Linked DNA regions of Homo sapiens. The protein of the gene in region 2 interacts with the protein of the main gene of each other region in a biochemical or structural test. Each region holds a gene or a part of one and is shown on either strand. Other genes may lie near its edges.

Evidence for each region.
Region 1: the proteins of GRID2IP (region 2) and RSBN1 interact in a test that uses a peptide from one of them, tested with the Homo sapiens proteins (one large-scale study listed by IntAct).
Region 3: the proteins of GRID2IP (region 2) and SCN8A interact in a test that uses a peptide from one of them, tested with the Homo sapiens proteins (one large-scale study listed by IntAct).
Region 4: the proteins of GRID2IP (region 2) and JAM2 interact in a test that uses a peptide from one of them, tested with the Homo sapiens proteins (one large-scale study listed by IntAct).
Region 5: the proteins of GRID2IP (region 2) and PDLIM2 interact in a test that uses a peptide from one of them, tested with the Homo sapiens proteins (one large-scale study listed by IntAct).
Region 6: the proteins of GRID2IP (region 2) and TMEM178A interact in a test that uses a peptide from one of them, tested with the Homo sapiens proteins (one large-scale study listed by IntAct).
Region 7: the proteins of GRID2IP (region 2) and ASNSD1 interact in a test that uses a peptide from one of them, tested with the Homo sapiens proteins (one large-scale study listed by IntAct).

The regions. Positions count from the first base shown.
Region 1 is NC_000001.11:113,774,477-113,777,976, forward strand, and holds part of RSBN1 (lysine-specific demethylase 9), read right to left. Parts: exon of another isoform or gene 3,344-3,500; intron 3,333-3,343; coding exon 3,195-3,332; intron 2,877-3,194; coding exon 2,734-2,876; intron 1-2,733. UniProt on the Homo sapiens protein: Histone demethylase that specifically demethylates dimethylated 'Lys-20' of histone H4 (H4K20me2), thereby modulating chromosome architecture.
Region 2 is NC_000007.14:6,496,278-6,499,461, forward strand, and holds the end of GRID2IP (delphilin), read right to left. Parts: intron 1,952-3,184; coding exon 1,787-1,951; intron 1,569-1,786; coding exon 1,497-1,568; 3' UTR 501-1,496; downstream 1-500.
Region 3 is NC_000012.12:51,765,733-51,769,232, reverse strand, and holds part of SCN8A (sodium channel protein type 8 subunit alpha), read right to left. Parts: coding exon 3,206-3,500; intron 369-3,205; coding exon 1-368. UniProt on the Homo sapiens protein: Pore-forming subunit of a voltage-gated sodium channel complex assuming opened or closed conformations in response to the voltage difference across membranes and through which sodium ions selectively pass along their electrochemical gradient.
Region 4 is NC_000021.9:25,642,258-25,645,757, reverse strand, and holds part of JAM2 (junctional adhesion molecule B isoform 1 precursor), read right to left. Parts: intron 2,911-3,500; exon of another isoform or gene 1-2,910. UniProt on the Homo sapiens protein: Junctional adhesion protein that mediates heterotypic cell-cell interactions with its cognate receptor JAM3 to regulate different cellular processes. Plays a role in homing and mobilization of hematopoietic stem and progenitor cells within the bone marrow.
Region 5 is NC_000008.11:22,579,223-22,583,274, forward strand, and holds the start of PDLIM2 (PDZ and LIM domain protein 2), read left to right. Parts: upstream 1-1,252; 5' UTR 1,253-1,380; coding exon of another isoform or gene 1,381-1,382; coding exon 1,383-1,475; intron 1,476-2,156; coding exon 2,157-2,308; intron 2,309-4,052. UniProt on the Homo sapiens protein: Probable adapter protein located at the actin cytoskeleton that promotes cell attachment. Necessary for the migratory capacity of epithelial cells. Overexpression enhances cell adhesion to collagen and fibronectin and suppresses anchorage independent growth.
Region 6 is NC_000002.12:39,707,417-39,710,916, forward strand, and holds part of TMEM178A (transmembrane protein 178A isoform 1 precursor), read left to right. Parts: intron 1-3,500. UniProt on the Homo sapiens protein: Acts as a negative regulator of osteoclast differentiation in basal and inflammatory conditions by regulating TNFSF11-induced Ca (2+) fluxes, thereby controlling the induction of NFATC1.
Region 7 is NC_000002.12:189,667,895-189,671,331, reverse strand, and holds the end of ASNSD1 (asparagine synthetase domain-containing protein 1), read right to left. Parts: coding exon 3,387-3,437; intron 892-3,386; coding exon 606-891; 3' UTR 501-605; downstream 1-500.

The DNA.
Region 1 (3,500 bases), on a different chromosome or scaffold from region 2:
ATCCTGGCTAACACGTTGAAACCCCATCTCTACTAAAAATAAAAAAAAAAATTAGCCGGGCATCATAGCGGGAGGCTGTAGTCCCAGCTACTTGGGAGGCTGAAGCAGGAGAATGGTGTGAACCCGGGAGGAGGGGCTTGCAGTGAGCCGAGATCGCACCACCGCACTCCAGCCTGGGTGACAGAGCAAGACTCTGTCTCAAAAACAACAACAACAACAACAAAAAACAACTAGCCAGGCATGGTGGCAGGCACCTGTAGTCCCAGATACTTGGTGGGGCTGAGGTGGGAGGATCACTTGAGCCTGGGAGATGGGCTACAGTGAGCCCTGATCATGCCACTGCACTCCAGCCTAGGTGACAGAGTAAGACCCTGTCTCAAAGAAAAAACAAAAACAAAAACCAAGAATTGGTTAAATAAATCTTGATACAACCATACAGTAAAAATTCCCAAGTTTTAAAGTAAACATCACACAAAGAATGGATTTTGTAAAAAGATTATTTATGGCTATATATAATTTGAAAGGTTAATATGCCTAAATGGTGGCTACCTTTTTTTTTTTTTTGGAGATGAAGTCTTGCTCTTGTCCCCCAGGCTTGAGTGGAGTGGCACAATCTCGGCTCACTGCAACCTTCGCCTCCCAGGTTCAAGCAATTCTCCTGCCTCAGCCTCCCGAGTAGCTGGGATAACAGGCGGCTGCCACCATGCCCAGCTAATTTTTGTATTTTTAGTAGAGATGGGGTTTCACCATGTTGACCAGGATGGTCTCGAACTCCTGACCTCAGGTGATCCGCCTGCCTTGGCCTCCCAAAGTGCTGGGATTACAGGTGTGAGCCACCATGCCCAGCCTGCCTTCTTTCTACTCTTCTTTTTTTTTTTCTTTTTGAGATGAGTCTTACTCTGTCGTCCAGGCTGGAGTGCAGAAGCACCATCTCAGCTCACTGCGACCTCGGCCTCCTGAGTTCAAGCGATTCTCATGCCTCAACCACCTCAGTAACTAGGATTACAGGAGCGTGCCACCACACTAATTTTTGTATTTTTACTAGAGACAGGGTTTTGTCATGTTGCCCAGGCTGGTCTTGAACTCCTGGACTCAAGCAATCTGCCTGCCTCAGCCTCCCAAAGTTCTGGGATTACAGGTGTGAGCCACTGCACCTGCCCTCTTTTTACTCTTTCCTATTACTTTTTTCTTAAGTTTATAAAAATCAGGAAACAAATGATGGTCATTTTTTGAGGAAAGATTACAGAACAAAAAATGTATATAGTATTTAACAATTTAATAAGATTTCAAGATTCGTCATCATCCTGCAACAAAAACTGCTATAATCTAGCAATGTGCAGAACTTTCAAATGACTCCTGGGTTTTTACCATGCCACCACCCTGCATCGTACATAATGTTTTCAAAGTATTTTCATACATTTCAAGTACCTAAGATTATTCCATACTTAGCTCAAGTATCATTCTCCTATGAGCCTTAAGTTAAGGTTTAGATTAGTCCATTAAAACTCACTTCTGGGCACTTATTTTGAATTGCTATTTTCGTAGTCTAAGCAGGTATAGATCATTTTCAGTCTCATTAAATTAGATTTTTCAAAGTACTAGAGAGTGAGTTAATCTACATTTGTCTTCAAAGTCTGAAACACAAAACATGTTAGCACAATATGAATTACTGAGGCTCGGTCCTATAGAACATTATTGGTTTCATGTAGCAAATACTGGTTACCTAGTATATGTCATGAGGACAAAGATGAATAAAATAGTCCCTGTCTTCCCAAAGCACACCTCAAATGTTAGTAGAAAATAAAAACATGTAAACAAAACTTTAATGAACAGAACATTGTAGGGAACAATTAATTACCTAAGGAAGGAAAGAAAAACTTCACAAAGGAGGTGACGTCCAAGTTAAGTTTTGTTTGGTTTTGGTTTGGGTTTGAGTCAGGATCTTGTCGTGGAGTCCTGGGCTCAACTGATCCTCCTACTTCAGCCTACCAGGTAGCTAGGACTAAAGGCATATGCCACTGTGCCCAGCTCAAGCTAAGTTTTGAAAATGTATTAAGTTTGCTGTGGGACGGTAACCCCAGCACTTTGGGAGGCTGAGGCAGGAGGATCATTTGAGGCCAGGAGTTCAAAGCCAACCTGGGCAATATGGTGAGACCCCATCTCTACAAAAATAAAATACACAAAACAATTTTTTTAATCAGATGGGCATGGTGGTACACACCTATAGCCACAGTTACTTGGGAGGCTCTCCTGAGACCAGAAGTTCAAGAATACAGTGAGCTATGATTGTACCACTGCACTCTAGCTCTGGGCAACAGAGTGAGACCCTATCTCAAAAAAAAAAAAAAAAAAAAAATAGTGCAAAAGCAAAGAGTTATGATAGACTATGGTTTGGAAAGTGAATTCGGTATGGCCGGAGAAGACTAAACACAGATACATCTAGAAGAGGTACAGTTGACCTGATTATTAATGTAAACCACACTAAGGGGTTTGATCTTTTATCCTGCAGGCAGTTAGGGCACAGGTTTTTAAAAAATAAGTAAAAATTAAATTTGTGTTTTAGAAAAATGCCTCACTGTGATAACTGTGATGATTGGACTGAAAAGAGGAACCGACAACTAAAACATTTACTTAAGGGAGCCCAAGACAAATGGTTTTCAAACTGTGCTCATTTTTATAAGCAACCAACTAAAAAAAAGTAGTTTTGCTTATTTGAGAAAAAGAAATATTTACCGTCGTCTTTTGAAGGGTGACTTTGGCATATCTGCTGTAGGGATCATCTGTTCTCCTGGCCTTACCCACATTATAGGCCCATCATCACTCTGGGACCTACACTGGAGTCGGAGGCTAGAAAGTGTACCCCAGGGCAAAGTCATCTAGAAATCAGACGGATTAGTCACATTAAAAAATTGTTTCAATGATTTATAAGTTAATCCTCCCACCCAAATAAAAGTTCTAAGAAGGCTTTTTTACAACTGTATATAAAGAAATAAATGCTATTTACATAGTAATTTATATTAAAAAGAATAATTGAATTTAAGTACTTTGTACTAATATTATTCTATCTAAACATTTCTGTGCAAAACACTGGATAAATTTAATTTCAATAGGCAATATTAGCTAAATACTCTTCAACATATAAAGTGCCCACTTAAGTAAAGATCAAAACTTTAATAATCTTAATTAACACTCACTTTCAGAAATGGTGATTCTTCTAACATATCAAGGAACTCTGGGAAATAATCACCAACTTCTTCATCTACTGCTCCAACGAGACTTATCTGCCGCATAGGACCTGCTCGGTAGGTGCCACAGCAGTATGTCCTGTTGACCTAAGATAAAACAAAAGAGGGAAAAATGGACTGAGGTACAACTATAATATAATTAAAGAATTAAAATAGGTTATTGTTTCCAACGTTGCCATTTCTTCTACAAACTAAGAACTGAATGGTCAATACCTTGAATAAAGTCAGAGAGGCACCCAAGCACACTGACAAATA
Region 2 (3,184 bases):
TAATTTTGTGTATTTTTAGTAGAGATATGGCTTCACTATGTTGGCCAGGCTGGTCTTGAACTTCTGGCCTCAGGTGATCCACCTGCCTCAGCCTCCCGAAGTGTTGGAATTACAGGCGTGAGCCCCCACGCCCTGCCTGCAGAGGTTTTAACTGACCTCCTGACATGTTTCCCAGAGACACAGGCACTGGGAACTTTTGGAAACAATTCTGCTTGAGCTGCTAGGGTGAAATGTACCCCACTAGCCACATCCCCCTTGCAGTATATATTTTGGTTTTGATGTTTTTGTATGGTGCTTGTGTGCAAGGAACAAAAAAACAAAGGTGGCTTCCAAGAGGGGCCTAGGGGAGACTGGGAAGAACTGAACAGGTTCCCAGTACTGCCCAGGTGCAATGTAAGCCATTTGATTGCAGTGGGAGAAAAAGAATCCATGAGACAGGATTAAAGCCCATTTCAGACTTTTCCAAAAAAAAAAAAAAAAAAAAGTGCAACGAGGGAAGCTGTCTGATCCAAGGATCTGTCAATCAGAGAATTTTAAAAAAGGTGAAACAGTTCACACACCCTCCCTCCCTGCCCACCACGCCACCTGCTCCTGCTCCTGGTATCCAGGTAACTCCTGCTATATGCCTAGGCACATGTAAAATGACCATTTGGGTCCCAAACACATCCCAGATTGTGTCATCTGCCCCCACACCTGCCCCGGTCTCATGACTTGCTCCAGGGAACATCACCATCCGTCCAGGTGAGAAGTCTGGCAGTTGGCCACCAGATCCTGCTCACCTCCTGCCTCAACACCTCCCCATTCTGTCTGCTCTACCTTGACCACACCTATTCCACTCCCAGGCTCCCCACTTCCAATTGGGCCACCTCTACACAGGTTTGGGTTTGTCCACTGCATGAAACCTCAATTCCGCAGTCTGACATAGGGGGTCTTCCTTCTCCAGTCCTTCCTTCCCTGCGTCTCTCCCAGGCTTCTCTCTTCCTGTGTCCCTGAAGCCAGCTTCCAAGGCCCAGGCTGGGCGTGCACATCCCCAGGGCCCCTCTACATCCGGCTTTCTGCCCTCTCGCGTCTCGCGCCTGCCTGCAGGGTCGTGCTCAAGGGTGTCGGCCCCCTCACAGGGACCCACTAGGAGCAGGATCAGAAAAAAGGTCCACATGTCCCAGGAATGTGGCCACTTTGTAATCCACCCTCCAGGCCCCCCTGACAGCCTGGGAGCGAAGTGGGAAGTGGGCCCAAGAAGCCGACAGAGCACGGTCCTCCATGTGCAGGCACACTCAGCACCTGCTCCTACAGCATCTGGCTCTGGGCCTGGGGGTAGGAACAAGGGCTGGCAGAGGAGGGCCCGACCACAGCTCGGCGGCTGAGGTAGCTGCAGGAGAGGCTGGCGGTGTGCTCAGAGCCCGGGGCACAGTGGCCCCGGACCTCGGCAGTGTCTGGGCTGCCCTCTCGGCCTCCATCTCCCTGCTCAGGCCGCAGAGGACGCGGTGTGGCCACTGTCACCAGGCCAGGGGTGAAACCATCCCGGAGCTGCGCAGGCCCTCCCCGGCCTGCAGGTCACTCAGCGCTCGCTGGGGAGGGGGAACACAGAGGTAGGGTGGTCAGTGGTCCCAGGAACCTGTGACGCCTTCCCTGTCTCTTCCCACACTAGACAGCCCATCAGGGGGTTAGGGGGACATGTCGCTCACTGGAGCCCCTTTCCCAGCCCTGGCTTCATGGAGGATCCCTTCATTTGGCCTCTGGCCCCCACCTCTCCAAAAGGGCCCCTCAGGGCTCCAGCGAGGCTCACCTCGAATTTGCTCATGAACTCTGCAAAGATGCCGAAGAAAGCCTCAGAGGTGGTGGCCTTGGAATCCTCCCCAAAGAAGGCCAGCGCCTTGCCCAGCTCCTCCATGGCCTCGCGCTGCAGCCCGTCGAGCGCCCGAAGTGCTGGCTGGGCCGTCTCCAGGAAGGACTGACAGGCCTCAGTTAAGGAAACAGCCAGCCCGCTTGTGCCCCCAGGGTCTCAGGTGGTGGCCCGACAGACAGGTCCCTAGCAGCCCTATTCCCGGTTGGCCTGAGTCCTTCCAAGGGCCAGGCCCTGTGTCCAACAGGGAACCAGGCCCTGTTCAGGGACTCTAGTCCCACTGGCCACTGAACTCATCCTGGAACTGGCCACAGCCAGTGCAGCCTCAGGCCATTCACCCCTGTTCTCTCTGCAGGGCCAGGCCCTGGGTCTCTGATCAGAGGCTTCCACTGCCACCTTCTTCCCCAACCACTCATTTACAGTAGGCCCCTCTGTCACTCTCTAGGCCTTACTTTTTTTTTTTTTTTTTTTTTTTTTGAGACAGGGTCTTATTCTGTCGCTCAGCCTGGAGTGCAGTGGTGTGATCACAGCTCACAGATCATTCCAGCCTCTACCTCCCAGGCTCAAGTGATCCTCCCACCTCAGCCTCCCGAGCAGCTGGGACCAGAGGTTTACACCACCATACCCAGCTAATTTTTTGATTTTTAAAATAGAGATGGGGTGTATGTTGCCTAGGGTGGTCTCAAACTCCTGGGCTCAAGTGATCCTCCCACTTTGGCCTCCCAAAGTGCTGGGATTACAGGTGTGAGCCACTGCACCTGGCCTTAGGCCTTACTCTGTTTTCTAGAGCATTTGTCATGATCTGAAATTGTTCATAAGTTCATTTCCTACTGCCTAAGTGAAAGCTCGCTCCCTCCTTGCACCTCCAGGGCTTAGAATAGCATCTGATACATGGTCAGTCTTGCAAAAAGATTCAGTGGCTGAATCGCTATCATTTTTTCAGCACTTAAAATGGTGCCGAGCTTTGTTCCAAGCTTGTTGAATCATCGTTTAACACCTCTATGAGGTAGATTATCTCTATTTTACATGTGAACAAATTAAAGCACACAGGACTTTAGCAACTAGCCCAAGATCACACAGCAAGCACTGTGGTGCCTGAGCCACGGTTGAACCCACCAGGGTCACATCAATTAATGACCACTGTGGTAGAGGTTCTCATGACCCCTCTTTTTCCTGATGAGAAAACTGGGCTCACAGAGGGTAACTGACTTGCCCATAGTCCCACAGCAGGTAAGGAAATGAGCCAGGATTTGGGCCTATGCCTGTCTGATGTGCCAGGTCAATTTCCTTTGCAGAGGCTGCCTTTAATTAATTAATTAATTAATTTTGAGACAGAGTCTC
Region 3 (3,500 bases), on a different chromosome or scaffold from region 2:
GGGTTGTTGATGAAGGACATGTGGTCCTCATCAATGATGTACTTCTCCACGCTGCTGCCAATGCCGCTGGTTGTGCCATTGCCATTCTTCTGGAAGTCACCATTCCGGTGGATGTCTGCACCGGTGTGATTGGCGATACAGTTGGCCTTCTTTTCATACAACTCATCCAGAGGCTTCACCTCATCAGCCTCACGCTGCTTAAAGTGGGCCTGCATGAAGGCGTGCACCTTTAGTTTGGTCCAGGCCACACCCTTCTTGATACGGATCACTGAGATCTGGAGGTTGTTCATTTCCCCATCGTCATCTGTGGCAGCCAGGTTGTCTGCACTGAAGGAGCTCAGGAGCAAGGCCAGAAACAGGTTCAGCACCTATGCCAGTAGCATTGGAAAAAAGGAACAAATGCAGAAAAGTTATCCATCGAACTCAGGGTTGCAAACTGGAAGCCAATGGACTTCACGTGACAGACTCAAAGAGGCTCTGTTGTGTTGTGTTTGGCCCACGTAGTATTTTAATGCTCATGTTACCAGGTGGGAATGTGTTTGGTTTTGGTTGTAATACAAGGAGTTTAGCACCTCTTTTCTTGGGTCTTTTATAGTTTTACATACATATATATGTACCCGAAAATATATTACTTCTCTTATAATCAGAAAAAACAAAGGCTGTATCCATTTTGGAAGGACATTTCCCCAAAATAAAAAGGTGAATATACATTACTGGGGAGGGTCACAAAGTGTACAGATGCCACATATTCATGAGCAGAGTTTGAGAGGACCCACGTCAGAAAAAAAAATGAGGCTTGAAGTGCCATCCTTTCATACAAAAAACCAAGAAGGTAGAACTGAAATACACTTCATGTCATCATATTTTAAGAACAAATTTTGTTTTCCTAACATTTATAAAAATAAAATCGCTTTAGCAAGACAGTGATGGTGACTTTTATATTTTTTTGCATAGCCAAATGTCAAGCCATCAGATACAAGCTTTATTTATTTTTGTTTTAATCTCCTATTTTACTACATTGAACATTAAGGTTAATTAATTTATTTTTATTAAGACTTACTTTTTAGGAGTGGGAGAGGTGCTCACTTCTTGATTTACACTTGGTCCTTACTTTGTCATACTTGGGAAGAAGAGTAAGGCATACATTTTAGGAGGAGATAACAGTCATGTGCAGAGTGGGAGGGTGGAAACAATAAATGAACTATAAGTGTTCGGATTATCTGCACCATTTGTAGAGTTAAAAAGGAATATGGTTGGTAAAATGCGGGTGAGTTGGAGAGGGCTTTGAAGGCCAGGCTGAGGGATCTGAATTTTATTTAATTAGATCCACTACTGGTTCTTGAGTAAAGGAGTCACAGATGATGACAGAGATTTGAAAGAGTCATTCAGACTAACTACATACAGAGGGGAAGGGCAGAAGTTAGGAGGCTGTTACATGCATGAATTGATAAGGGTCTGGATTAGGCTACAGAAATCCCAAATCTTAGCATGCATTAGAATCTCAGGGAGTGAGGGGTGTGGATGTTTGTTAAAAATATTTCCTTAGCCTACTCTAAAGATATTTGGATTCAGTAGATTTGGTATACAGCCTGGGACTTGGCCTTTTTTTGTGAGTGAAACTTGTGTAATTATGATGCAGGTGGTCTTGAGACCACATTTTTATAAAGTACTGAATGAATTATAGAAATGCAAAGGAAGGGGCAGATCTTAGATACTATGAAGAAAGATATCCACAGAAATACTATGAAGAAAGATGCATTTAAGACACATCAGATATTTGCTGGGAGTGGAGAGAAAAGAGACAGAAAATACTCCAAAGTTATAGGTTCCTAGAAACTAGATGGGCAGAAGGACTACTGAGCAAAGGGGAACCTGAAAAGTGTCATCAGGGGGTAGTGGTAACAGCTGATATTTATCAAGTGCTCAGGTATCTGGAGACAGCCATGGGGAGATGTCTTTGAGACAAATAAGAACAGGAGAGTGAAGAAAGGGTGGCAAAGTCAGGGCTTGAAAATGTTGATCATGCTACATACCGGGAAGCCATTGTTATAGTCACTGAAGTAGTGAGAAGACTAGAGGGATTAGGACTGAGGGAAAGGTGGCTGGGAATGGAGAATAGGAAGAATTAAACATTACAGTAGCTATTTTTTTTGTAGGTCAAATGGAAGAACAGAATAGTTGTAGCTGGTTCAGAGGCTGGTGAGTAGGAGCCTTTTACTGTCATGCTTCTCTGTGGCAGAAAAAGGAAGAGAACTAATGTGGATGAGCATGTTAAGGGACAGATAAGCTTGTCTTCTTCCAGTCCTCTTTGCCCTACACTTGCAGGTGGGATTAGGGGCCTGATCTGTAAGATAGTCCTTTCTCAAACTTTAGTGTACTTTTGAGTCACACAAGGATCTTGTTAAAAATGCAGATTCTGATTCAGTAGTTCTGATTTGGGGCCTAGAATTCTGCATTTCTAACACACTCTCCAGTGATCTTGTTGCTGCTAGTCCTCAGATCACACTTTAAGAAGCAAGGTGTTAAGATCTGTTGGTGACTCTTCTAAAGACAGAGGTAGAAGAGAGCAGGTGGACAGATCAAAGTAAAGCAATAAAGTGATTTGTCATTTATATAAATTAAATAAAACTCTAAGATGGTTTAGAGCAGTGGCTCTCAATGGAGGGCAATTTTGCCCCCCAGGGACATCTGGCAATGTCTGCAGACATTTTTGGTTGTCACAGCTCTCAGGATGCTACTGGCATCTAGTGGGTAGAGGCCAGGAGGGACGCTGCTAAACCCTACAATGCACACGACAGCCCACAACAAAGAATTATCCAGCCCAAGATGTCAATAGCACCACAGATGAGAAATTGTCGTTAAGAAAAAGGAAGGCTTCTGTAGGCGAACGGGCACAGACTTTAAAGTCTAGGTTCAAATACAAGCCCTATATTTATTTGGGAAAGTCACTTAATTTTGCTGAGTTTGCTTTCCTAACTCTAGGAAAAGGGTTGACAAGTTGTGGGGGTCATGACTAAGTAGGCACTCTGTAAGTATCTCTCTCCTCTCCTTCATTTGTACCTTAGGGTTTCTGGGCCAAGAAAGAATAAAAATCAACAAACATGACGGGTAGTAGAAGGACTAAGCAGTAGAAGGACTTGGGCTTCTGGGCCAGGGGTAGAATATTCAGGGTGTAGAACAAAAATATCTACAAATTAGTACTAACCACCAAGTTGCCAATCACCATGACCATCATAAAGACAATGAGGCACATGGCCTGGCCTGCCACTTCCATGCAGTCCCACATGGTCTCAATCCACTCCCCGCACAACACTCGAAAGACAATGAGGAAGGAATGGAAAAAGTCATGCATATGCCAGCGAGGGAGTTCACAGTCCTGGTTGATCTTGCAGACACACTCTTTGTAGCTTTTTCCAAAGAGTTGCATCCCCACCACGGCAAAGATGAAGACAATAATGGCCAGCACCAGTGTCAGGTTGCCCAGGGCACCCACTGAATTT
Region 4 (3,500 bases), on a different chromosome or scaffold from region 2:
CAGCAGGCTCTACCATCTAGGTTTCTGTAAGTACACTCTATGATCACACAATAACAAAATCACCTAACGACACATTTCTCAGAACACATCGCATCATTAGGTGACAACTGTAAAAAGCAATTGTCAGTGGTTATATGTGTATGTGTAATTATGTGAGTATATTTATCAATAAACTATATAAAATAAGTACTTACACAAGCAATTGCCTGGACTACTCCAATAACTTCTAACTGGTCTCCCCAGTTTGACTCCCCCCACCCCAATCCTTCCATTCACCATACTCCATCCAATGCATTCTCTTTAAAATGCAAATCAAACTGATATTCAATGTCAAAAGGCTTCAATGGCTTCTTCAGTTTACTAAGTGTGTTATACATGTAATTCTCCCTAAACCTCTATGAGGTAAGCACTCTTATTGGGATTATCACCAACACTGATGAGTAAACTGACATAATACAGGTGTTAACCTGTATAAGATCACACAGCTGGTAAGAGCACAGAGTGCTGCATTGGAGTGCATGTTCTTTACCACCATACTATGCAATTTGAAATACAACTAATAAAAAATATAGCTTTAGGCCAGGCGCGGTGGCTCACGCCTGTAATCCCAGCACTTTGGGAAGCCAAGGCAGGCAGATCATCTGAGGTCAGGAGATCAAGACCAGCCTGGCCAACATGACGAAACCCAGTCTCTACTAAAAATACAAAAGTTAGGTGGGCGTGGTGGTGGGAGCCTATAATCCCAGCTACTCAGGAGGCTGAGGCAGGAGAATTGCTTGAAACCAGGAGGTGGAGGTTGTGGTGAGCTGAGATTGCGCCACTGCATTCCAGCTTGGGTGACAGAGCAAGATTCCATCTCAAATAAAACAAACAAACAAACAAACAAACAAAACCAAAAAACCAACCAGCTTTATATCACTATGAGTTATACTTTAAAGGTAAAAGTTATGGTGGCTTCATGGAATCTAGAATATTCTTGGCTACAGCACTGAAAACACTGTCGCTGTGCATAACCTCATTTTGGCTGCTGTGAGAAACAGAATAATAGCCCCACAAAGATGTCCACATCCTACTCCCCAGAACCTATAAATATCTTACTTTACATGGTAAATAGGAATTGCAGTTGTAGATGGATGAAAGTTGCTAACCAGCTGACTTTGAAATGGATAAATTATCCAGAGTTACTCAGGTAAGCCCAAGGTAATGACAAGGGTCCTGATGAGTGGAAGAAGGAAGCAGAAGAGAGAGAACAAGAGAGGTGGCAGCCTGGTGTCGCAGGGCCGTGAGTGGGGACAGGTGGCAGCCTGGCAGGACAGGGCCGTGAGTGGGGCGCCTCCAGAAGCTGGAAAAGCCATGGAAACAGATTCTGCCCTAGAACCTCCAGAAGGAATGCTTCATGCTGATACCTTGATTTTAGGCCAGTGAGACCTGTTTCAGACTTCTGACCTCTAGAAGTTTAAGACAATCAATTTGTATTGTTTTGTTTTTGGTCATGTGTTTCACAGAAATAGAAAAGTAATACAGTTGGGTTATTTTTTCTGAGTTCTAGCCTTGTTAACAGTAACACCGTCCAAGAAAACAATCCCTGGTTTTAAGTTTTATTTTGCTGCTTTTGCCAAAGGAGGCACCTGACCCAGGTTCTGATTCCCCTTTTCCATCTTCACCACCATCTTCCTCAAAACATCAGTCTAGCAAGAGGGGTATACTGGAGTATTGACTCAGCAGTGTTACTACTATATTGCTATGGGATGAAAAAATATTATTTTAAGAATGGCCTTTATAGCTTCCTGGTGGTCTGACTTCAATAAAGCTAGCAGCTCTTACCTCTATATTCCAATACATCTTCTCTATGAGGAAGGCCCACAGGAGGAAACCAATGCAATGGAAACCATGGGTGGTGAACATCCGTAAGCTCCTGTGGGCTCCTCTCATTAAACTGCTCATGTGGGAGGATAAATGAGTGTTTTCAGTCATAGGGAACTCACTGTGCTCAGGCTGAAGTTTTTGTTTTTGACTTCATTCTTTCTAATATAATTTCTTTCATAGTCTTGAAATGGTTGTTAAATCCACCTACAAGCCCATTTTAGCGTTTCTGTTCATCAGATAATTGAGACTGTGCCAGCACGGAACCACTTCTCTCCAGCAAATTGATTATGGCAGTTGCTTCTTAACAATAGATACAGAGGGCAGAATTTTCCTAGTACCGGTTCCCTGGAGTGCTGTTTTGGGTCAGTTCTGGCAAAAAGGCAGAACCTTGTGATTTTACAAAAGATTCAGACCTCTCTCCCCTACCACAATCTTTATCAGTTGATGAGAGATTAGACTCAGGCTAAGCGCCTGGATCAGGTTCCAGTCCAGATCTGAGGACCAGCTGCTACTGGTTAGGTGGAATCAGGAACTGATTCATGATCAGCTCCTTGGCTCTGAGAGACCCCAAAAGGCATGACAACACCCCACCAAACACGGAATACTCATTCCTATTATTTTTTGACATATCAGCTTAAATGATGCCTCAGAGAAATCTAACACTCCACCTACTTAACATGAAGTTAGAGCTTCATGATTTATATTGCAATCAGTTCAATCTATACACTTCTTTTACCTACCCTACCTCATCCCCATTCCATCTGCTGTGGTTTATGTCCCCCCACATTCATATGTTGAAATCTAATCACCAATGTGATGGTATTAGGAGTTGAAGGCTTTGGACCGTGATCTGGTCATGACAACAGTGCGCTTACAAAGAGACCTCAGAGCTGCCTTGCTTCTTCCGCCATGGGAGGTCACCCTGAGAAGGCTCCATCTATGAACCAGGAAGTGGGCCCTTGCCTGACACTGAATTTGCTGGTATCTTGATTGTGAACTTCTCAGCCTCCAGAGCTGTGAGAAATAAACGTTGTTTATAAGCTACTCCGTTTATGGTATTTTGTTACAGCAGCCTGAATGGACTAAGGCACCATAGAATCAACAGGCATATATTTATACCTACTATTAACCAGGAACTTTGCTCAGCACTGGACATATAGTGGTGAGCAAACATCAAGAAATTCCTTTCCTAATGGAGTGGGAAAGAAAAATGTAATTCAACTAAACACACACAAAAATATCCATATATCAACAGGGATACTGACATCATCGTTTAAATAACAAGAACAACAACAAAAAAGCAATCCTCCAGACTACTAAGAAAGATATAAAGAATGCTGATAAACAGCAGGATAAAAAGGAAAGAAGGGAGTAAGCATGATATTATAAATGATAGGAGTGGCCAAAAGAATGGCACAGTTACATCTGGGAAGAATATTAAAAAGATGAATATGTAATAACAGCATAAGAAATCCACTAAGTCTTTAATAAATAAAATAGTATTGGATTATAACCCAAAGTATAAAACAAATATTTATGAGCCCATACTGATAGAAAAATAAATGATTAAATAAATAAATGAAGGGAAGGGAGAGACCCATCTCCCATGCAGAAGAGCTCCAAATAATTTATGA
Region 5 (4,052 bases), on a different chromosome or scaffold from region 2:
AGGTGAGCGCGCCCACCTGCGCCTCTCCGCGCGGCCCGCCCTCCCCGGCGCCGGGCTCCTCTCCGCGCCCCTGTCGGCGCGGAACCCTGGCCTCGTCCGCGGCCCAGCTCCCTGGAGCCTCGCATCAGCGGGGGCGCCCCCGCGAGCTGCGCTCTCCCCGGCCGGAGCGCTCCTCCTCCAGCCCCCAGCCCGCAGGGTACTTTGCCCTCGGAGCGAAGGAGGCTCCAGAACTGGTAGAGCCGGGCCATCGGGCTGGGCACCTCCCCGCGGCGCCCGCAGCGCGGAGTCCACTGACCGGCTCAAAGGTCTGGGAATCTCGGGGCGGCCGCGAGCCGGCCTCGGGGACTGGGGTGGGGGCGGTGCTGGGAACAGAGGCTAGGCCTGGGCCCAAGGGGAAGGCAGCCGGGGATGGAGCGGACAGACCGCTGGTGCTCTTGATAGATTCTCGCAGCACTTGCGTCCCCAGGGCAGCCCCAGGATGGGTGCTGGGCAGGGTGGTGCCCAGCCTGGCACCGCGGCTTCCTGCCTGGATTGGCTCCTGGCTCCAGAGCTAGAGGCTCAGGAAATCCCACAGGGGTCTGTCTGCAAGGGCACTTCCTTGCCCAGCGGAGGGGCTGTGGATGGGAGGCCTGTCACCCCGGCTGTCTGTCGGGCAGCATCAGGAATCTGGGGGTGGGTGTGTCCAGCTTGACAGATGAACCCTGGCCTCCTTGCCCTGGCAGCCGGCCCCTGGGGGAGGTGGGGAGCCCGGTCTTGCCCGTGTGATCCACTTTGCCAAGAACGAGGTGGGCAGCTAGGAGGCCCATGTGAAGACTCGGCCTCACCCCACCAGTCCTTCACCTGGCCAGTGACTTACACAGTCTGTACTGGTGCCAGCCTGTTCCTTGACCCGTCACTCCTGCTTCCTGAGCCCTGCTCTCCCTAGGCCACTCACCAGCCCTCCCCCAGAGTGGAGAGGAAGTACCGTGTGCTGTGGGTTTTGGGGACAGGAAGCAAGCGCTAGTGGGACTGAGCCCTGATGGTGGAGGAGGGGAGACTGAGGGGGTGCTGGCATCCCCTCCACTTGCCAGCCCCTGCCCCCCATGCTCCAGCAAGCCCCCTGCCTGGCAGCCTGGGCAGCCCCCTCCTGGGAGTCGCTCCCTGGGCTGAAGACTAAGGAAGGGAGAACCCAGAAGCATGGCTTCCCAGGGTGGGGGGAAGTGAAACCGGGCTGAGGGAGGGAGTTAGCCACTTCCTCTACCCACCCCAAAGCCCCTGAGTAGCTGCTCCGGGAGCTGTGGTGCCCTCTCCTTCTCCCTTTGGCTCCTCTCCTGCTGCCTTACAGTGCCCCCAGAGCCGGCTAGGGGCATGGACTTCACCTCCTGGTCCTCTCTTCCTCAGGTATGGCGTTGACGGTGGATGTGGCCGGGCCAGCGCCCTGGGGCTTCCGTATCACAGGGGGCAGGGATTTCCACACGCCCATCATGGTGACTAAGGTAAGGATGGTGGCTCAAAGAGATGAGAAGGTCCTGCCAGAAGCGAGGTCGGCCCTGTTCACCCCACTCTGCACAGATGGCTTGCTTTTTCTGTTCTGGAGCTAGGGATCTGCTGCTGCCTGGCGTGCTGGCTGTAAGGGAGCCGTGGCCCTTTGCCACGGGGATGTGGTGGCCACTTCAGGAACAGACCTTGGGAGTGAAAGGGAGCTGGGACCAGGACAGGGCCGGCTCTTGCCTCCCCAGTTGCTATCCCCACACTTGCAGGCAGCCATTTGGGGTGATTACTAGAACAAGAGCCCCGGAGTTCTTGGCAGTCTCCTCTTGACCTGGGCCCAGGCTGGGAACATTCACAGGAGGGCTGTGCAGGCAGCCACCTGCAAGGTGCGATTTGCACGGGCAAGGCTCTCTATCCAAAAGTATTTCCAAGCACAGTTCCTGAAATTCTGCCACTGCACATTCTTTGGGAGGCCCATTAGAATGCCAGTGTGGGGTGGGGGCTGCCACCTGCGCTCCTGGAGGGGATGGCTGATCAGCTGGGTGTCATGAGCAGGCAGAGGGACATGCAGGAGGGTGCAGGCCGGCCTGGGTCAAGCCAGCCTCTGTGTTTCTTGGGTAGCAGAGTGGGAAGTCCCTTCTCCAGCTGGGCCACGGTCTGAGCATGCCAGCTCCTCATCCCTACAGGTGGCCGAGCGGGGCAAAGCCAAGGACGCTGACCTCCGGCCTGGAGACATAATCGTGGCCATCAACGGGGAAAGCGCGGAGGGCATGCTGCATGCCGAGGCCCAGAGCAAGATCCGCCAGAGCCCCTCGCCCCTGCGGCTGCAGCTGGACCGGTAGGGCCTCCCGCTCTGCAGAGCCTGTGGCATTCCCCCTCCTCCACCACCCCACGTATTGAGCAGCCCTTGCTCCTGCCCATGGGCTAGAGCTCAGCCCTAAAGCGGCCTTCTTGGGCCCTCTCCACACCTTGGTGAGAAGGTCCTGGGCTCTGCTTCCTGCAGCAGGGTGGGCTGAGGGGTGTTCCCATGCCTGGTTGGGTAAAGGTGGGCGCCAGGCTGGGCGTGCAGTCACAGGCTGGGCAGGGCGAGCTGGCACCAGCCACCTTGAAGCCCGGGTTTGACTGGTTCCCAAGAGTGTGCAGGGCACAGGGCGTGGGCATGAAGTGGGTTGAAGAGGGGAACCTTCTGGGAAAGGTATGCCCGAGGCTGCATCCCCAGGACTCCTGCTTCCAACAGGGCATGGCCTTTGTTTAGTTCCCAGCTGGAAGTGAGGACTTGGGGGGCTCATTCCTCATAGAGGCTGTCTGTTCCTCCCCATCACTGAAGGCAGATGCCCGATCCTGGGTTACTCCTAGGGTTTTGAGCCTATAAGCCAAGGTGGGGCCAGGGTGGGGCCTGGAGGCCAAGCTATAGGGGGAACAGGTGGCTCCCTGGGGTGGGGCATTGCAGTGAGTCACAGATCGGGAATGCCAGGAGATCCCCGAGCCAGGAGAGCCCTCTGCACGGGCCTAGAACCTGAGTCAGACACCTCTTGCATCCTGGCCACCCCCACATTGTCCTGCTCTCTTCAGCCCTACCAAGCCCCTCCTTCTCCAACTGCCCTGCCCTGTGGTGTGGCAGAAGCCGGCTCCCTTCATGTCATTCAGGTCCCTGGGTGTTTGCAGGAGCGGGACCCCAAGAAGGAGGGTAGAGAGCACCTCATGGCATCTGGGAATGGGGCAGAAAGCTACAGGAGGCTGAGGGTCTGGCAGCGGAAGGGCAGGAGCCTCGGACTGTCTCTTCCTCTGGGGTTCTCTGGAGGGACCAGGGCTCGGGGGAGGTAGGCCTGGGCTGTAAGTCAGGCCTCTGGTTCTGCACCAGGCAAGCCCAGACTCCAGTCTCTTAATTTTTTTTTTTTTTTTTTTTTTGAGACAGAGTCTCGCTCTGTTGCCAGGCTGGAGTGCAGTAGCGTGATCTCGGCTCACTGCCACCTCTGCCTCCCGGGTTCAAGAGAGTCTCCTGACTCAGCCTCCTGAGTACCTGGGACTACAGGCGCGTGCCACCACGCCCAGCTAATTTTTGTATTTTTAGTAGAGATGGGGTTTCACCACGTTGGCCAGGATGGTCTCGATCTCCTGACCTCGTGATCCACTTGCCTCAGCCTCCCAAAGTGCTGGGATTACAGGTATTACACCGCGCCCGGCCCAGTCTCCTTACTTTTGCTGACGTGATGCCCACCCCCCCCCCCGCCCCCATCTCCCGCCTCCTACCCTCCCAGGTGACCTCTCTGGTATTCAGAAGCCCTGGGGCAGGAAGCAGGGCTCCAGGCTGGAGCCAGAGACTGAGCTCTCCTCACCCTGATCCCATGGCTCTCCCAGGAAGCGGAGGGTCCTGTTGCCCTACATCTCTAGAGGCAGCCTCACGGCCAGGAATGTGTGGCAAGATGGGACGAGGCAGGCTGTCCCTCAGCCCAGACTTCAGTTACCTCCCATTCAGGGCTCCAGCTGGGTTCCACTTTGGAAGAGGGTACCCAGGGAGCTGGGAGGGCGTGCCCCTCTCGCTGGTGGGGAGCTGGGCCTACTTGTCTGGAAGGAGGCAGGCG
Region 6 (3,500 bases), on a different chromosome or scaffold from region 2:
GTCTTGGGTTTAATCTCTATATGAGCCCAGTCTGTTTTTTTGCTGTACTTTCTTTTTTCTTTTTTGTTTTTTTGAGATGGAGTCTCACTCTGTCACCCAGGCTGGAGTGTAGTGGTGCGATCTTGCCCCACTGCAACCTCTGTCTCCTGGGTTCAAGTGATTCTCCTGCCTCAGCCTCCTGAGTAGCTGGGACTACAGGCATGTGCCACCACACCTGGCTAATTTTTGTATTTTTAGTAGGGTTTCACCATGTTGGCCAGGCTGGTCTCGAACTCCTGACCTCAGGTGATCTGCCTGCCTCAGCCTCCCAAAGTGCTGGGATTACAGGCAAGAGCCACCACACCCCACCTTCTGTTCCTTCTTTCATACTGTGCCCCAAACCCTGGCCTGGACTCTTGGCAAACATGGACCATTGCTTATGAGGTGCCCTCAAAGACAGAGGGGGATAGATCAGCACAACCCATGCCCCGCTGGATGTCAATTCAAAGCATGCTTTAGTGATGGTGTCATTTTTACATACACAACACTCATTCATTTTAGTCCACAGATATCTTTTGAGGACTTACTATGTACGAGGCACTGCTGTGAGTGCTAAAGACACACAATGAATAAGGCAGGCAAAATTCTTGTTCATTTTTATTGTGGAGAGACATAAACAATGATTTGTGGTAGTGATAAAAGCTGTGAAGAAAAGAAACAGGGTGAAACAGGGACTCAGGGAAGATCTTGCTGAGGTGGCGATTTCGCAGCTAATTCGTGAGAAGCAGCCGGTGGTAGGAAGAGCGTAGCAGACTGGGGAAACCGCCAGTGCCAAACCTGAGAGAAGCGGCCAGTGGGGCTGGAGGGAGTGAGGGACAGGATAGTATCACATGAGGTGGGGGAAGTGGGCAGTGGCCAAAGCGTCAGGGTTTTGTTGGTCATGGTGGAGAGCTTGGATTTGAAGCTAAGGGTGACAAACGCCACTAGAAGGTTTGAAGCAAAGGAGTGACTTGATTTTTTTTTTTTTTTTTTTTTTTTTTTGAGACGGAGTTTCGCTCTGTCGCCCAGGCTGGAGTGCAGTGGCGCGATCTCGACTCACTGCAAGCTCCGCCTCCCGGGTTCACGCCATTCTCCTGCCTCAGCCTCCCGTGTAGCTGGGACTACAGGCGCGCGCCACCATGCCCGGCTAATTTTTGTATTTTTAGTAGAGACGGGGTTTCACCGTGTTAGCCAGGATGGTCTCGATCTCCTGACCTCGTGATCCGCCCGCCTCGGCCTCCCAAAGTGCTGGGATTACAGGCGTGAGCCACCGCGCCCGGCCGATTTTTAAAGAAGGGATTGGAAAGATGGGGGTGTGGAGACAGGGCTAGGATTTTTTTGACTAACAGCTAAAGGGTAGTTTTGTCTAAAAATGTGCCAGGTGCTGAGTTGATGGCTAACACTGACCGAAGGTAGCTTCAGGGAAGAAATCTTTCCTTTCTTCTCCTCCTTCACAGAAAACTCGTGTATTAATGATTAGTGAATGCCACATTAACTGGGCATTAACAGTTTCACACAGTATACTCAGCAACAGAACTAATATTCCCCGAGATAGATAGCCATTTTAAATAGGCTTATTTCCACTTGCTTGGAATTCTGTTATTCAAGTGACTATGCCTAGATTTTCTTGCACTTCTCACTGTAATGGGTCACTTAATTAAGCCTGCGTTAACAGGAGGCAGCCACACCCCACCGGGGCTGACACTGTTTGCTGACTGTCTGTCTCTGAGCGTTGACGGGTAGGGGGTACTTTGCCCTCTGGCATGTTCAACCACCCTGCAGCCTTAAGGAACCCACATCACAGGCAGGGATCCTTCCTTCTAACTCCCACTCACCCCTATCCCACTCCACGAAATGGTGCTGCAATTGGCAGTGATCTGGAATGTGGGGCATCATCACCAGCATCCTGGAACATTCAGAAGTCACATGGATGCTGCCTAGTTCTCAGCAGAAAACCAATTTAGGTTTTCTAGATTTTGGTGAATACACAGTGGCCACCAGGACTGTAGCACAGGGAGGCTAAAATGTTAGTTTCTGAGGTTTTAGAGGAGGATTTGGACCCTCAAGACCAGCCACTGGGTTCCTGCCCAAGGGATGCATTTAAAATCCAAATTATAGACTAAAGCAGACGCGGGCAGCAAAGAACCAGAGAGGACTGCACTGCACAGAGGATTCCTTTACACCTCTGCTGGGGCTTAATGGTTATTTAAAAATCTCCCCCGTTTTCTTCTCTCCCTTTATTTAAGCCCCCATTTCTCTGACTCTTGTCTCCATAAATATCAAAGAGGTACAGATGTGTTGCCTCCCAACACATGGGAAAGGCCCCATAACACTCCCCTTGTCAGGAAAATGGGGGATGCTCTGGAGTGGACAAAAGCCTCAGTAGGAGGAGTTTTTAAAGGATACTTTAAATATATGTACTGCCTGAATAGTTTAGTATGCTCTTAGCAAATGAAACAATTGTTAGAACTAAAATAAATTACAAGACCATGAAAGCCTACTGAGTGCTCCTTGGGAGACTGAGGGGCCAGTCTGGTTTTAAATGAAAGGAAGTTGAAGGTTCAATGGCAGGTGGGCACAGAGGAGAGGCAGTAGTTTCCTGGGCCAGCTCCACCTCTCCCTGTTCTCAGCCCTTATTTTGGATCCATGTGTGGATTGTACCTCTGGACCAGAGGAGCTCAGAGGTCCTCAGGATCGAGCACGGGAAGCTCCTGTGTAATTGTTAGGCAACATCAAAATATGCAAAGCAATAGCCACAACAGAAACCACCACCACCACCAACAAAAACCCAAACAATAAACTTGAAGTTTGATGACCAGTTCTGAAGGACTAACAGATACAACCTAACATTGTTAACATTGTTCTGTTGTTTTGTTTTGGTTGCCCAAACAACGTTATTGAAATTAAGGGGGAATCCACTTACAGACCTCATCACCTGAAAACAAAACAACCTTTTTTCAATATTTCCTTTATTTTGGACCAAATCTTGCCATGTATTTGCTTCACTGTAAAAAAACAAGAAAGGAAAAGGAAGGAGAAGAAAGGGGAGGGGATGGAAGAGGGGAGAGGAGGAGCATGGAGTGGATATGCTATGCTGGATTCACCTGTTCTGTTGCTGTGGGATTTAGGGGCGTTTGTTTTGCTTTTGTTACTACAAATAATGCCTTGAAATTTCCTTTGCAAACACTGAGACAACCATGTCAATCTATTGCTTGAGATAAATTAGCTGTAGAACGTTCACATGCAGTAGGAGATGAGAGCAAAAAAAGGGTTAAAAGAATCGATTTTAATTAAGCAGAATGTCTTTAGCCACTCAAGTCAGCATCCTTCCCACAGATTTTTGATGCTAAACTTAGCCCCTTCTAATGCTCTGCCATCTTCATTCTGTGCCTGAACTTATTAGCTAAACCTTCAAATGAAGAACATCAACCATGTGACAGGTTGGCTGGTTAAAATGGAAACTCTGAAACGATATTTCTCCT
Region 7 (3,437 bases), on a different chromosome or scaffold from region 2:
TCCCAGAGGTTGGTGGGTGGGGATGAAATTCCAACTCTTCTAATCACTTGATTTTTATTTTTGTTTTTATTTTTATTTTTAGAGACAGGGTCTCACTGTCGCCCAGGCTGGAGTGCAGTGGTATGATCCTAGCCTCACTGCAGCTTCAACTTCCTGGGCTCAAGTGATCCTCCCACCTCAGACTCTTGAGTAGGGAGGCACATGCTTCCATGCCCAGCTAATTTTCTGTACTTTTTTTTTTTTTTTGGTAGAGATGAGGTTTCATCATGTTGCCCAGGCTGTTCTCAAACTCCTGGACTCAAGAGATCCCTCTGCCTTGGCCTCCCAAGCTGCAGGTGTTAAAGGCTATTTAGAGACCTCACCCTAAGTCAACGCATTAGCATAAACTCAGGTGTGATCAAAAGGGGCTTATTATGAACAACAAAAGATATTCCCTATCACTAAGGAAATTCCATGGTTTTAGAAGCTCTGTGACAGGAAAAAATGAAAATTCAACCAAATGAACTTTAAAACTACTATGTTATACAATAGTAAAGCAGCAGAGTATCTTACTTTTATATAATTATATAAAAACTTATTTTTATATTGTTACATTGTGAATCACATTACAATTTAGTCTCCTTTTCAATAGAAAGATTTTCTAAGGACATGATTTGGAGCCGTCCACATTTATCAGATGCCTTTTCATTAATTTTTTCCATTTTTGCAATTCTTGATCCAAACTGCATGGCCCGTTTGGGCAGAAGAGCAGAGGCTGTAAGACCAAGTTCCACAGCTGCAAGGCGTAAAAGTAATTTTTCACCAATTCCTCGGGGTAAAGTCAAGTTTGCTTTTTCCCAAATCGGCAGAGAATTTAGAAAGGAGACAACATTTTCATCCAGGAAAGGAAATCTAAAATAGACAGATAATATAACCACTATGTAAAAATAAAATCAACCTGCTTTGATTTATACACAGTTTTATAGCTAAAATTTAACCAAATTGTTTCACAACATGACTAATTTTAATACATATACTACAAAATAGTCTAAATCTCAATAAATAAATTAGGTTTATTGTGTCCAGAAATAATTTCAAATTGTTTTACAAGGTATCTTTGTGGAGGCCTTGAAAACAAACATGATTTTTTTTTTTTTTTTTTGCCTAGGTGAGCACTACCGCACCCAGCTAATCTTTGTATTTGTTGGTAGAGATGAGATTTCGCCACATTGCCCAGGCTGGTCTCGGACTCCTGAACTCAAGTGACCCACCTGCTTTGGCCTCCCAAAGTGCTGGGAATACAGGAGTGAGCCACCGCACCTAGCCTACGAGCATGATCTTAACTAACTATTCAATCTGTGTCTGATCTTTATCAGGTCTAAAGAAATGACACTTTAGGGATATGGAACCAATATAGAAGGGCTCCACAGTCCTGAACCTGCAAAACACTTATGGTAAAATTTTGTTACTCAAAATTGTTTAATTATACTTAAACCAATTAAATGGTGATAAATTACTGTAACAGAACAAAATATTAGATTTTTTTCCCCTAAATTCTGGGATGACCTAGAAACAAAATATTCGATTAAAAAAAAACTTTCTGCCCTTTTCCTTCCCCAATTTCTAGAAAATTATGTTCTTTTTCTGTTTAAAATACTTTAACACCCACCATCCCACATCTCAAAATGCAATACAGTTACACTAGTGTTTCCGTTTTATTACATCCTATTCTAGGTTAAGAGATTGGAAAGGACAAAGACATTTGTTATCTGGAATATTACATAAAAATGAATGAGTTGCAAAAGCAAATTTAACTAGAGAATCAAATCAACACACTACTGTTAATATGTATGTCAAGATACGTAATAAATTATTTAGATCTAGCCACTATATTTGTTATATCACAATTCTGTATTAGCTGCTTTAAACATTCTTCATATGCATTTTTATTTGAGCATAATATAATACTTTCATAAGTAAGGGCTTTTACTAGACAAATTCCTTTCTCTATGACCTAGCTGAAATAACAGACTGAATTTCTACCTCTCTCATGTCCTTCAAAGAGAAAACAGTTTAACAGTTTACGGACTTTATTATGGCATTAGTTATCAGTTTATAGTGAAATCTTGAAAATTATGACAGAATAATGACATAGTAGCTAAACTTTTACATGGGCTAGGACCAGAAACTTAAGAAAGACAACTGTGTAAAGGCAACTACAAGTCAGTGGAAAGAGGAAAAGACTGAAGTAGAGACAAGAAACAATGAAGTCAAAGAGAGAGAGAGAGAGAGGGAGAGAAAGTGTAGTATGTTTAATTCTCATGAAGCTTACTTGGACTTCCTATTCTTGGATGCTTGCACCCTTGTAATAAACTACCACTTAATCAATTAGCCTACTTGAATGAATTTTTGCTCTTTATAACTAAATGTCACATCTTCCTTTATCCTTACTTAATGTTTTAGAAAGTTTTATTCAAATACTGTACTTGTTCACTACCTTCAGAAATATGATATAGGTAAAAATAAACCTGAAAAGCAAGAATACATACATGAAAGTGCCTTGGTTTCTTTGAAGGTTTTAGGTAATCTGCAATATGTAACTAAATTGTGTTCAAAAAACGTGGCAGAGGAATATCCAGTGTAAGGACTACCTTCAAATCAGCATGGATCTGTACATACAGAAATGTCTATAGAGACAAAGCCAGTTTCTATAACACTGGAGAAGGCTTGCAGGTGGGGCTTATGCCCTTACTGGGAGGAAAGCAAACATTAAAAGCTGAACAAAACCCTCTAAATACCTTCTCTTAGTATTTCACTATCTCAGTTTTACTCTGTTTTTTTGTGGAAACAGAGTCTCGCACTGTCTCCCAGGCTGGAGTGCGGTGGCGCGATCTGGGCTCACTGCAACCTCCACCTCCTGGGTTCAGCCATTCTCAGCCTCCCGAGTAGCTGGAACTACAGGCATGCAGCACCATGATCAGCTAATTTTTTTGTATTTTTAGTAGAAGTGGGGTTTCATCATGTTTACCAGGCTGGTCTTGAACTCCTGTCCTCAGGTGATCCACCCGCCTTGGCCTCCCAAAGTGCTAGGAAGACAGGTGTGAGCCACCATGCCTGGCCTACTTTGACAGTATTTTTCACTATAGTCTTAAAAACAATCCTGTCATTATGTTACCTTTGAAAATTACTGAAAAGACATTTCTTAGAGAATGAGTTCTAGAAAATAAATGCTCTCCTGGCTCTTCCCAGCTCTGTTTCTGACTTTGTTTATAATACAAAGCCAAGCTATTATTGCTGCTCTTATTCATGTGAACAGTCTCCAAAGAGAAAACAAACTTTAAAGTCTCCATTTACACTCTGCTGTTTTTATAAAAATACCGTAAGAACACTCAAATGATTAGAATTACCTTGCTTCTTTTCCATGATCACCAATAACTCTGTCATCACGACCAAGATTT